Linked DNA regions of Homo sapiens: region 2 is linked to region 1. The links come from fine-mapping of genetic effects on gene expression. A gene starts in region 1. The other region holds a variant in brackets. All regions are shown on one strand. Distances are between the middles of the regions.

The links. PIP is the estimated chance that this variant, and not a neighbour inherited with it, causes the effect. A credible set is the group of variants that fine-mapping cannot tell apart.
Region 2: its variant is the best candidate, but not a certain one, in a credible set for the expression of ITGAD in whole blood (TOPMed, PIP 0.83).

What each region holds. Positions count from the first base shown.
Region 1 is chr16:31,390,408-31,395,781 of GRCh38, forward strand. ITGAD (integrin subunit alpha D) reads left to right here and starts at 2,928. Exons shown (of 30, transcript NM_005353.3): 1 at 2,928-2,984; 2 at 3,829-3,934. The coding sequence starts at 2,954.
Region 2 is chr16:31,365,514-31,370,887 of GRCh38, forward strand. The region is part of intron 14 of ITGAX (integrin subunit alpha X); the gene reads left to right. Among named protein-coding and RNA genes, the nearest start is that of ITGAX, 13 kb to the left of the region's middle. RefSeq lists an enhancer at 3,046-3,652. The variant T/C (reference allele first, on the strand shown) is at 2,521.

The DNA.
Region 1 (5,374 bases):
TGCCTGTAATCCCAGCTACTCGGGAGGCTCAGACAGGAGAATCACTTGAACCTGGGAGGCAGAGGTTGCAATGAGCTGAGATTGCACCACTGCACTCCAGCCTGGGCGACAGAGCAGGACTCCATCTCAAAATAAAAATTAATTGATTAATTAATTAAAAATTTACTGAGAGCTGGTGGTTCCTTTAAGGGTGGAGCCGCCATCAAGTCCCCAGAGGATGCCCTGAATTTGGGGGCATCACCTTCAGCTGCTGTGGACTCTGAGCCTTGGCAGCTCCAGCTCCAGGCCTGGGAGAAAGATGATTTCCTGGCAGCGTGCAGTGATTGTGAGCATTTGACTACCTTACTGCATTTTGCCCTTATCATTGCTCTCCAAACATGAGTGGAAAACAAAAAATTTTGCTGAGACAAGCGATAATACGAGTTAGGGAAAGTTGGAGAATTTTATAGTTGCTGATATCAGCAAATCGTGAGTTTCAAGCACTACTTACAGAAGGAAGTCCAAAATTAAAGGGGATATAGAAATGTGTAAAAGATGAGGTGTGGTGAAGATGGAGAAAATGAAGAGCTCTTTAAATTTCTGAATTATGAAGAATCACCAACAAATTATTTTGTGGTTCCAAATACAGGGAGAAGTTCACAGATCCACAGAACTGATGACAGGGTGCGGCCAGCCACAAACCTTTCAGCACAAGAGGGAGAAGGCTGCCGCTCCACTTTGCCTGGGCAGTCTTTGTAAGGCAGTAGATAAGTCAGCCTCGAAGTTAGCAATCACAGCCCTCGGCTCGGTTTCCTGCAAGGGCATCGTTAATGCATCACAATTAATTTCTTCTGTCCATTAAATGTCAGCTCTCAAGTAAATTGATGTAAAATTTTTGTATAGAAAACTATTTCATATTATTTGCACTTGATGTTTAATTACATTTTAAATGTTTTGTTTGTTTCATTTTGTTTTGTTTTTGAGACAGAGTCTTGCTCTGTTGCCCACGCTGGAATGCAGTGGTGTGATCTTGACTCACTGCAACCTCTGCCTCCTGGGTTTAAGCGATTCTCCTGCCTCAGCTTCCTGAGTAGCTGGGATTACAGGCGTGCACCACCATGCCTGGCTAATCTTTGTATTTTTAGTAGAGATGGGGTTTCACCATGTTGGCCAGGCTGGTCCCGAACTCCTGACCTCAAGCTATACACCTGCCTCAGCCTCCCAAAGTGCTGGAATTACAGACATAAGCCACTGTGCCCAGCCAAATGTTTTAAATAATTGTCACATATATATACAAAATAATTTATGTTATAGGTAGGGATCTTGTTATATTTTAACCTTCAAAGTATATTCCTAAGCTTTTTATTTATTTTTTATTTTTTATTTATTGAGACAGTCTTGCTCTGTCGCCCAGGCTGGAGTGCAGTGGCGCAATCTTGACTCACTGCAAACTCTACCTCCTGGGTTCAAGCGATTCTCCTGCCTCAGCCTCCTGAGTAGCTGGGATTACAGGTGCGCACCACCATGCCCAGCTAATTTTTGTATTTTTAGTAGAGACGGGGTTTCACCATATTGGCCAGAGCTGGTCTCAAACTCCTGACCTCAGGTGATCCATCCACCTCAGCCTCTCAAAGTGCTGGGATTATAGGTGTGAGCCACTGCGCCTGGCCTATTCCTAGCCTTTTATATATAGACCTTTTTCTTTTTCACATTTTAAAGGAACTTTTATGTTTAATCATGGAATATTTCAAACATACAGAAAAATCACAGAAAATAAATAACAACCACTCATTTATCTTCTCCCCAACCCCATGTAATAAATATTAAAATATTGTGTTAAATGCTAAATTTAACACATGCTAAAGGTTCCTGGCTGGATGTGGTGGCTCACGCCTGTAATCCCAGTACTTTGGGAGGAGGAGGTGGGAGGATTGCTTGAGTCCAGGAGCTCGAGACCAGCATGGGCAACATAGTGCGATCTCGTCTCTACAAAAAACAAAAAAATTAGCTGGGCATGGTGGTGTGCATCAGTAATCCCAGTGACTGGGAGGCTGAGGTGGGAGAATTGCTTGAGTCTGGGAATTTGAGGCTGCAGTGAGCCCTGATCATGCCACTGCATTCCAGCATGGGCGACATAGCAAAACTTGTCAAAAAAAAAAAAAGTTTCCTCTCTGCCCCACCATAGACAACCACTCTTCTGATTTCTATCTTCGTAGATGAATTTTGCCCATTCTCTTGTATATGAAAGGAACCAGACATTAGGCATTCTGGTGTCTGGTTTCTTTCACTTAAGATAAAATTGAGTTAACCTGTATTGTTGTACAGAACTGCAGTTTGTTCTTTGTTATTTATTGTAAAGACAGGGTCTGGCTATGTTGCCTAGGCTGGTCTCGAACTGTTGGCCTCAAGCAATCCACCTGCCAAGCTCTGGGACCACAGGCATGAGCCATGGCATCTGATCTGTAGTTTGATCTTATTTCTTGCTGAGTAGTAGCCCATGGCATGACTTTATTATTTTGGGTGTCCATTCTCCTCTGGAGGGGCTCTGCTTTTTGAAACCACACCCTGGCCTAGCTCCCCTTCTCCCTGCCTCTCTGCCGGCTCACATCCACATGCCAAGACCTCTGCAGCCATTCTGCTTCCTGTCCTTCCACTCCTGTGGGACCTCAGAGAGCTACGGGGCTCCCTGGGTACCAACTGGCTCCTGAGGCCTGGGGGAGGGTGGTCTTCTGGGAGAAGGAAGCCAGGTCCCTGCAGGTTGTGGAGGGGGACAGAATGAGGGTTTTTCCCCAGGGTGTTGTTGGCCCCTGCCCCCACTTCTGTTCCATAATTAACCACGCCCCTCCTACCCACTGTGCCCCTCTTCCTGCTGTGTGGAGGCCCTGAATCATTATTTTAACTACCCCCTGGGAGGGTGAGCACCTTCTGTGCTCTGTCCCCAACCTTCCACTTCCCCTCAACGCGCTGCTCAGGGATGACCTTCGGCACTGTGCTTCTTCTGAGTGGTAAGTGGGGCCAGGGTGCTGGGGAGAAGCTTGGAGGAGTTCTGAGGGGACTCCATCTGGGAGGGCAGGCTGGGGGCTGGTGGTCGGCTCCAACCACTCTTATGAGGAGCTGAGGCAGGGGAGTGCTTCATGTGCGAGTGGCCCGGAGTCAGTAGAGTGTGACCTGAATGAAGAGGGGCTCAGGGGCTGTGCTCAGGTGGCGACTAAGCTACCTCTCCAGCTGGCTATGTTGTCCCAGGCTTCCCTGCTCCCACTCATGGAGTCCCTGGTGTGGGTGACAGAGGTCTCCCCAGCCTCCCCCGGGAGTGGAAGGCCACAGAAGCCACCAGGGAGGGGGAAAGGTTGGACATCACCTCCCTGGGCCTGTTTCCCCCAAGTCCTGACTGCACGTAGGGAAGAGGCCCCCTGCTGAAAACTGCATCAGAGTCACATTCACGTGCCATCAAAAATCAGGCTTGGCTGGGTGCGGTGGCTCATGCTTATAATCCCAGCACTTTGGGAGGCCGAGATGGGCGTATCCCCTGAGGTCAGGAGTTTGTGACCAGCCTGGCCAACATGGTGAAACCCCATCTTTACCAAAAATATAAAAATTAGCCGGGCATGGTGGCGTGCACTTGTAATCCCAGCTACTTGGGAAGCTGAGGCAAGAGAATCGCTTGAACCCAGGAGACGGAAGTTGCAGTGAGCTGAGATCGTGCCGTTGCACTCCAGCCTCAGCAACAGAGCGAGACTCCATCTCAAAAAAAAAAAAAAAAAAAAGAAAAAAAAGAAAAAGAGGCTGGGAGGTCCTAGGGATTGGGGCTTCTTTAACTCCCAGCCTCCCCGCCCACCAAATATTCCTCAGTCCTGGCTTCTTATCATGGATTCAACCTGGATGTGGAGGAGCCTACGATCTTCCAGGAGGATGCAGGCGGCTTTGGGCAGAGCGTGGTGCAGTTCGGTGGATCTCGGTAGGCCCCACTCACCCTCCTTCCCCAACCTCCACTACATCAAGTCCTGTGGATGGGTACACGTGGGTTACCCCAGGGAGGTGTCCTGGAGGAAGGCCAGCAGGGGTGAGAAGTCTTCCCTTGGCTCCTTGGAGGCCCTGACATCAGCACCTATTATTCTCAATCCCAGGAAAGGCCACAAAACTCTAGACAAGACCCTACCTTACCTCGGGAGGGAAGCCTTGAACCTGCCTCCCAGGCAGGGCCCACTTCTTGGGGCCAGTATGGTCACACAGGGCCCACACTCATTAACTTTGGAGTTTAATGTTCTGCCCTTGACCTCTTGAAATTCCTGATTATTTTTATTTTTATTTTTACTCCAGCTCTGTTACCCAGGCTGGAGTGCAGTGGTGCAATCACAGCTTACTGCAGCCTCAAACTCTCGGGCACAAGTGATCCTCTCACCTCAGCCTCCTGAATAGCTGGGACCACAGGTGCATGCCATCATGCCTGTTTTTTGTTTTGTTTTGTTTTACTTTTTACAGAGATGGAGTCTTGCTATGTTGTCCAGACTGGCTGAACTCCTGGGCTCAAGCAATCCTCCTGCCTTGGCCTCCCAAAGTGCTGGGATTACAGGTGTGAGCCACCCTGTCTTGCCAATTCTTAAAAATTTTATCTGTGCATTTGTGTTTTGCAAGTAAAGAATGATGGCAGGGCTGGGCACCATGGCTCACGCCTATAATCCCAACGCTTTGGGAGGCTGAGGCGGGCAGATCATCTGAGGCCAGGAGTTTGAGACCAGTTTGGCCAACACAGCAAAACCCCATCTCTACTAAAAATGCAAAAAAAATTAGCCGGGCATGGTGGCAGGCATCTGTAATCCCAGCTACTTGGGAGGCTGAGGCAGGAGAATCGCTTGAACCTGGGAGGTGGAGGTTGCAGTGAGCCGAGATCGTGCCACTTTACTCCAGCCTAGGTGACAGAGTGAGACTCCGTCAAAAAAAAAAAGTCATGGGAGAAGGGAGATGCACTGGGGGTTTGGAGCCTTAGCTCAGCAGCAGCCCCACCTCCCACCGCCTCCTGAAGGGTGGTGAAGGGGTATCAGCTGCTGGCTCCCCCACCCATGTGGGAGCAATGACCGCTGCTACCTTCCGCCCCTGGCATGAGCTGGGTAAAGTCAGTTAGGGGCGCTCACTCTGGGAGTACCCCGAGGGAGTGGGACACTACATAGCAAATAAAAAACGTCAGGACAGGTTGAGGAAGAGAGCAGAAGAAAGGTAAGAGCCCCCCAACCCCAAGAGACCCCACAGTTTTATTTCAAATTGGGACCCACAAATTATGAACCTGCCCCCACTTCCAGGAGCTCACATTCTCCTGTCCCAGAGAGTTCAAGTCACAATGTGACACAGGTGTCACCAAGGTCTGGGGGGCGCAGGCAGGGAGAGAGCAGACCCAGGAGGG
Region 2 (5,374 bases), 25 kb before region 1:
TAGAACCAACCTTATTGAGCTGCTGCTGTGAGGATTAAATGAGTTAGTATGCATGAAGTGCCTGGCACACAATAGGTATCATGTTGTTATAATCTGTTTTAATTATCATTAAGATAGTTTAACAACTGGCCAGGCGCGGTGGCTCCCGCCTGTAATCCCAGCACTTTGGGAGGCTGAGGCAGGCAGATCACTTGAGGTCAGGAGTTCCAGACTAGGCTGGCCAACATGGGGAAACCCCGTCTCTACCCAAAATACAAAAATTAGTTGTGCGTAATGGCGCATGCCTATAATCCCAGCTACTTGGGAGGCTGAGGCAGGAAAATGGCTTGAACCCAGGAATCGGAGGTTGCAGTGAGCTGAGATTGCGCCACTGCACTCCAGCCTGGGTGATAGAGTGAGACTCCATCTCTAAACAAACAAACAAACAAAAAACACATAGTTTAACACCTGAAGGGGAATCTAAAGAAGAGGGTGAAAGACTGTTGAGAATAACAAGGGCCCACGTGTTGTCATGAAACTGCAAACAGTTCGTACCAATTCCCACAACCCATCACATGCAGGCATACCTTGTTTTATGCGCTTTGCAGATACTGCATTTTTTACACGCTGAAGGTATGCAGCGACCCTGCACTGAGCAAGTCTATCAGTGCTGTTTTCCCAGCTGCATGCACTCACTTTGTGTCTCCGTGTTACTTTGGTAATTCTCACAATGTTTCAAACTTTTTTGTAATTATCATGTCTGTGATGGTGATCTGTGATCAGTGATCTTCGATGTTGCTATTGTCCTCTTTTTGGGGCACCATGAAGCACGTCCGTATATGAAGGCGAACTTCATAAATGTGTGTGTTCTGACTGCTCCACCACTGATAGCTCCCCTGTCTCTCTCTCCCTCTCCTGTGGCCTCCCTATTCCCTGCAATGCAATGATATTGAAATTAAGCCAAATAATAACTCTACAATGGTCTTTAAGTGTTCAACTGAAAGGAAGAGTCACATGTCTCTCACTATTTATTTATTTATTGAGGCAGGATCTCACTCTGTCACCCAGCCTGGAGTACACTGGTGTGATCTTGGCTCACTGAAACTTCCCCCTCTGGGGTTCAAGTGATTCTCCTGCCTCAGCCTTCTGAGTAGCTGGCATTACAGGTGGGTGCCACCATGCCTGGCTAATTTTTGTGTTTTTAGTAGAGATGGGGTTTCACCATGTTGGCCAGGCTAGTCTGGAATTCCTGACTCTAAGTGATCTGCCTGCCTTGGCCTCCCAAAGCACTGGGATTACAGACGTGGGCCACCACGTCTGGCCACATATCTCTCACTTTAGATCAAAACCTAGAAATGATTAAGCTTGGTGAAGAAGCCATGCCAAAAGCCAAGATGGGCTGAAGGCCTTTTGCACCAAACAGCCAAATTCTGAATGCAAAGAAAAAGTTATTGAAGGAAATTAAGAGTGTTACTCCAGTGAACATATGAATGATAAGAAAGTGAAACAGCCTAATTGCTGATATGAAGGAAGTCTGAGTGATCTGGATAGAAGATCAAACCAGCCACAACATCCCCTTAAGCCAAAGCCAAATCCAGAGCAAGGTCCGAATGCTCTTCAGTTCTATGAAGGCTGAGAGACGTGAGGAAGCTTCAGAAGAAAAATTGGAAGTCAGCAGAGGTGGAAGTCAGCAGGGTTCATGAGGTTTAAGGAAAGAAGCAATCTCCACAACATAAAAGTACAAGGTGAAGCAGCAAGTACAGATGGAGAAGGCGCAGCAAGTTCTCCAGAAGATCTCTGATGAAGGTGGCTACACTCAACAACAGGTTTTCAGTGTAGATGAGATGGCCTTCGATGGAAGAAGATGGCATCTAGGACTTTCAGAGAAGTCAATGCCTGGCTTCAAAGCTTCAAAGGACAAGTTGACTCTCTTGTTAGAGGCTAATGCAGCTGGTAGGACTTCAAGTTGTAGCCAGTGGTCATTTACCATTTGGAAAATTCCAGGGCCCTGAAGAATGATGCTAAATCCACCCTTCTTGTGCTCTAGAAATGGAACAAAGCTGGGGTGACAGCACATCTGTTTATAGCATGCTTGACTGAGTGTTTTAAGCCCATTCTGGAGACCTGCTGCTCAGAAAAATAGATTTCTTTCCAAAGTTTGCTGCTTATTGACAGTGCACCTGATCACCCAAGAGCTCTGATGGAGATGTTCAAGGAGATTAGTGTTGTTTCCATGCCTGCAAACACAACACCCATTCTGCAGTCCATGGACCAAGGAGTAATTTCGACTTTCAAGTCTCATTATTTCAGAAATACATTTCATAAGGCTATAGCTGCCATAGATAGTGATTCTTCTGATGGATCTGGGCAAAGTCAATTGAAAACCTTCTGGAAAAAAATTCACCATTTTAGATGCCATTAAGAACATTCATGATTCATCAGAGGGGGTCAAAATATCAACATTAACACGAGTTCGGGAGAAGCTGATTCTGATTCTCATGGATGACTTTGAGTGGCTCAAGGCTTCAGGGGAGGAAGTGA[T/C]TGCGGATGTGTGGAAATAGAGAACCAGAATTAGAAGTGGAGCCTGAATTGCTGCAGTCTCATGATGAAACTTGCACAGATGAGGACCTGCTTCTTACAGATGAGGAAAGAAAGTGTTTTTTTTTTTTTTCAGATGGAATCTATTCCTGGTGAAGATGATATAAATATTGTTGAAATGACAACACAAGATTAAGAATATTACATAATCCCAGCACTTAGGGAGGCTGAGGTGGGCAGACCACCTGAGGTCAGGAGTTCAAGACCAGCCTGGCCTACATAGGGAAACCTCTCTACTAAACATCTCTACTAAAAAAATTAGCTGGGTGTGGTGGCAGATGTCTGTAATCCCAGCTACTCAGGAGGCTGAGGCAGGAGAATCGCTTGAACCCCTCAGGCAAAGGTTGCAGTGAGCCGAGATCACACCACTGCACTCTAGCCTGGGCGACAGAGTGAAAGTGTGTCTCAAAAAAAAAAAAAAAAAGAATATTATATAAACGTAGTTGATAAATCAGCATAGAATTTGAGAGAATTGACTCCAACTTTCTTTTTTTATTTTTTATTTTTTATTTATTTTTTTATTTTTTATTTTTTTTATTGATCATTCTTGGGTGTTTCTCGCAGAGGGGGATTTCGCAGGGTCATAGGACAATAGTGGAGGGAAGGTCAGCAGATAAACAAGTGAACAAAGGTCTCTGGTTTTCCCAGGCAGAGGACCCTGCGGCCTTCCGCAGTGTTTGTGTCCCTGGGTACTTGAGATTAGGGAGTGGTGATGACTCTTAACGAGCATGCTGCCTTCAAGCATCTGTTTAACAAAGCACATCTTGCACCGCCCTTAATCCATTTAACCCTGAGTGGACACAGCACATGTTTCAGAGAGCACAGGGTTGGGGGTAAGGTCACAGATCAAGAGGATCCCAAGGCAGAAGAATTTTTCTTAGTACAGAACAAAATGAAAAATCTCCCATGTCTACTTCTTTCTACACAGACACGGCAACCATCCGATTTCTCAATCTTTTCCCCACCTTTCCCCCCTTTCGATTCCACAAAACCGCCATTGTCATCATGGCCCGTTCTCAATGAGCTGTTGGGTACACCTCCCAGACGGGGTGGTGGCCGGGCAGAGGGGCTCCTCACTTCCCAGTAGGGGCGGCCGGGCAGAGGTGCCCCTCACCTCCCGGACGGGGCGGCTGGCCGGGCGGGGGGCTGACCCCCCCACCTCCCTCCTGGACGAGGCAGCTGGCCGGGCGGGGGGCTGACCCCCCCCCCCACCTCCCTCCCGGACGGGGCAGCTGGCCGGGCAGAGGGTCTCCTCACTTCCCAGTAGGGGCGGCCGGGCAGAGGCGCCCCTCACCTCCCGGACGACTCCAACTTTCAAAGAAGCTCTACTGTGGCCAAATGTTATCAACCAGCATCGCATGCTCCAGAGAAATTTCATGAAAGGAAGAGTCCATCCAGGCAGCAAACTTCCTCACGGTCTTATTTTAGGAAATTGCCATAGCCACCCCAACCTCCAGCAGTTGCCACTGTGATCAGTCAGCCGTGTCACCATCAGGCAAGACCCTCCACCAGCAAAAAGATTATGCCTTGCTAAAGGCTTAAACGATTGTTAGCATTTTTTACCAATCAAATATTTTATTTTTATTTTTGAACTTTTAGATTTAGAGGGGGTACACCTAGCCTTTCTAGACTCCCTCAGTAATTGGTAAATTTCTCTTTTTATTTTGTTATTATTCCTTTTTTTCTTTTCTTTTTTTTAATTTTTATTTTTTAGAGACAGAATCTCATCATGTCACTCAGGCTGGAGTTCAGTGGCGCAATCATAGCTGACTGCAGCCTCGAACTCCTGGACTGAAGAGATCCTCCTGCCAAAGACTCCTGAGTAGCTGGGACCACAGGCACAAAGCCAGTGTGCCCTGCCCATTATTATTACCTTTTTTTTTGAGACAGAGTCTCGCTCTGTCACCCAGACTGGAGCACAGTGGTGCAATCTCCGCTCACTGCAACCTCTGCCTCCCGGGTTCAAGTGATTCTCCTGCCTCAGCCTCCTGAGCAGCTTGGATTGCAGGTATGTGCCATCATGCCCAGCTAATTTTTGTTTATTTAGTAGAAACGGGGTTTCACCATGTTGGCCAGGCTGGTCTGGAACTCCTGACCTCAGATGACCCACCCGCCTCGGCCTCCCAAAGTGTTGGGATTACAGGTGTGAGCCACCGCGTCCAGCCATTATTATCACTTTTAATGGCTGCTAGTTCCAGGGTGCACAGAGATTTAAAGGGCACATTCTTCCAGGGATTGGGCATAACATGAGCACTGGGAATGAAGGTGATAGGTTCTACAGGGGAGGCAGTGCCTGGGAGGGTGGATCTGGGTGTGGGTGCGACCACTCCCTACCCCACCGCGGCTTTTTCTTGTCCTTTGAAGAGACAGAGTGACAGCAAGAAACAAAAAGGGGACTTGGGCCTGGGGTTGGACGGTCTGGTGTTAGGTCTGCAGTCAGCCTCTTAAAGGCTACCTGGGGTTGACACTGTCCCCAACCTCTCTCCTGCATCTTTGCAACGAGGGAGGTGAGGTTGGACAAACTCTGAGGTCCCTTTCAGCCTTAATACTCATTGTGATATATTATTGACTGCTGGCTGTATCCTGGGTGCTGTTCTAAGAACCGTAGGAATTCCTCTCCTGAGCATGGCTAAACTCTGAGCTAATAGTATCATTATATGAAAGATGAGGAAACGGAGGCACAGACAGATTGAGTCCTTGCCCACGGCCTCGTGGCTCATACGTGGAGGAGTCAGAATTGGAACTAGAGACTGATCGAATGAATGACACTCGGGTCACCAGGACACCCTTCCTATCT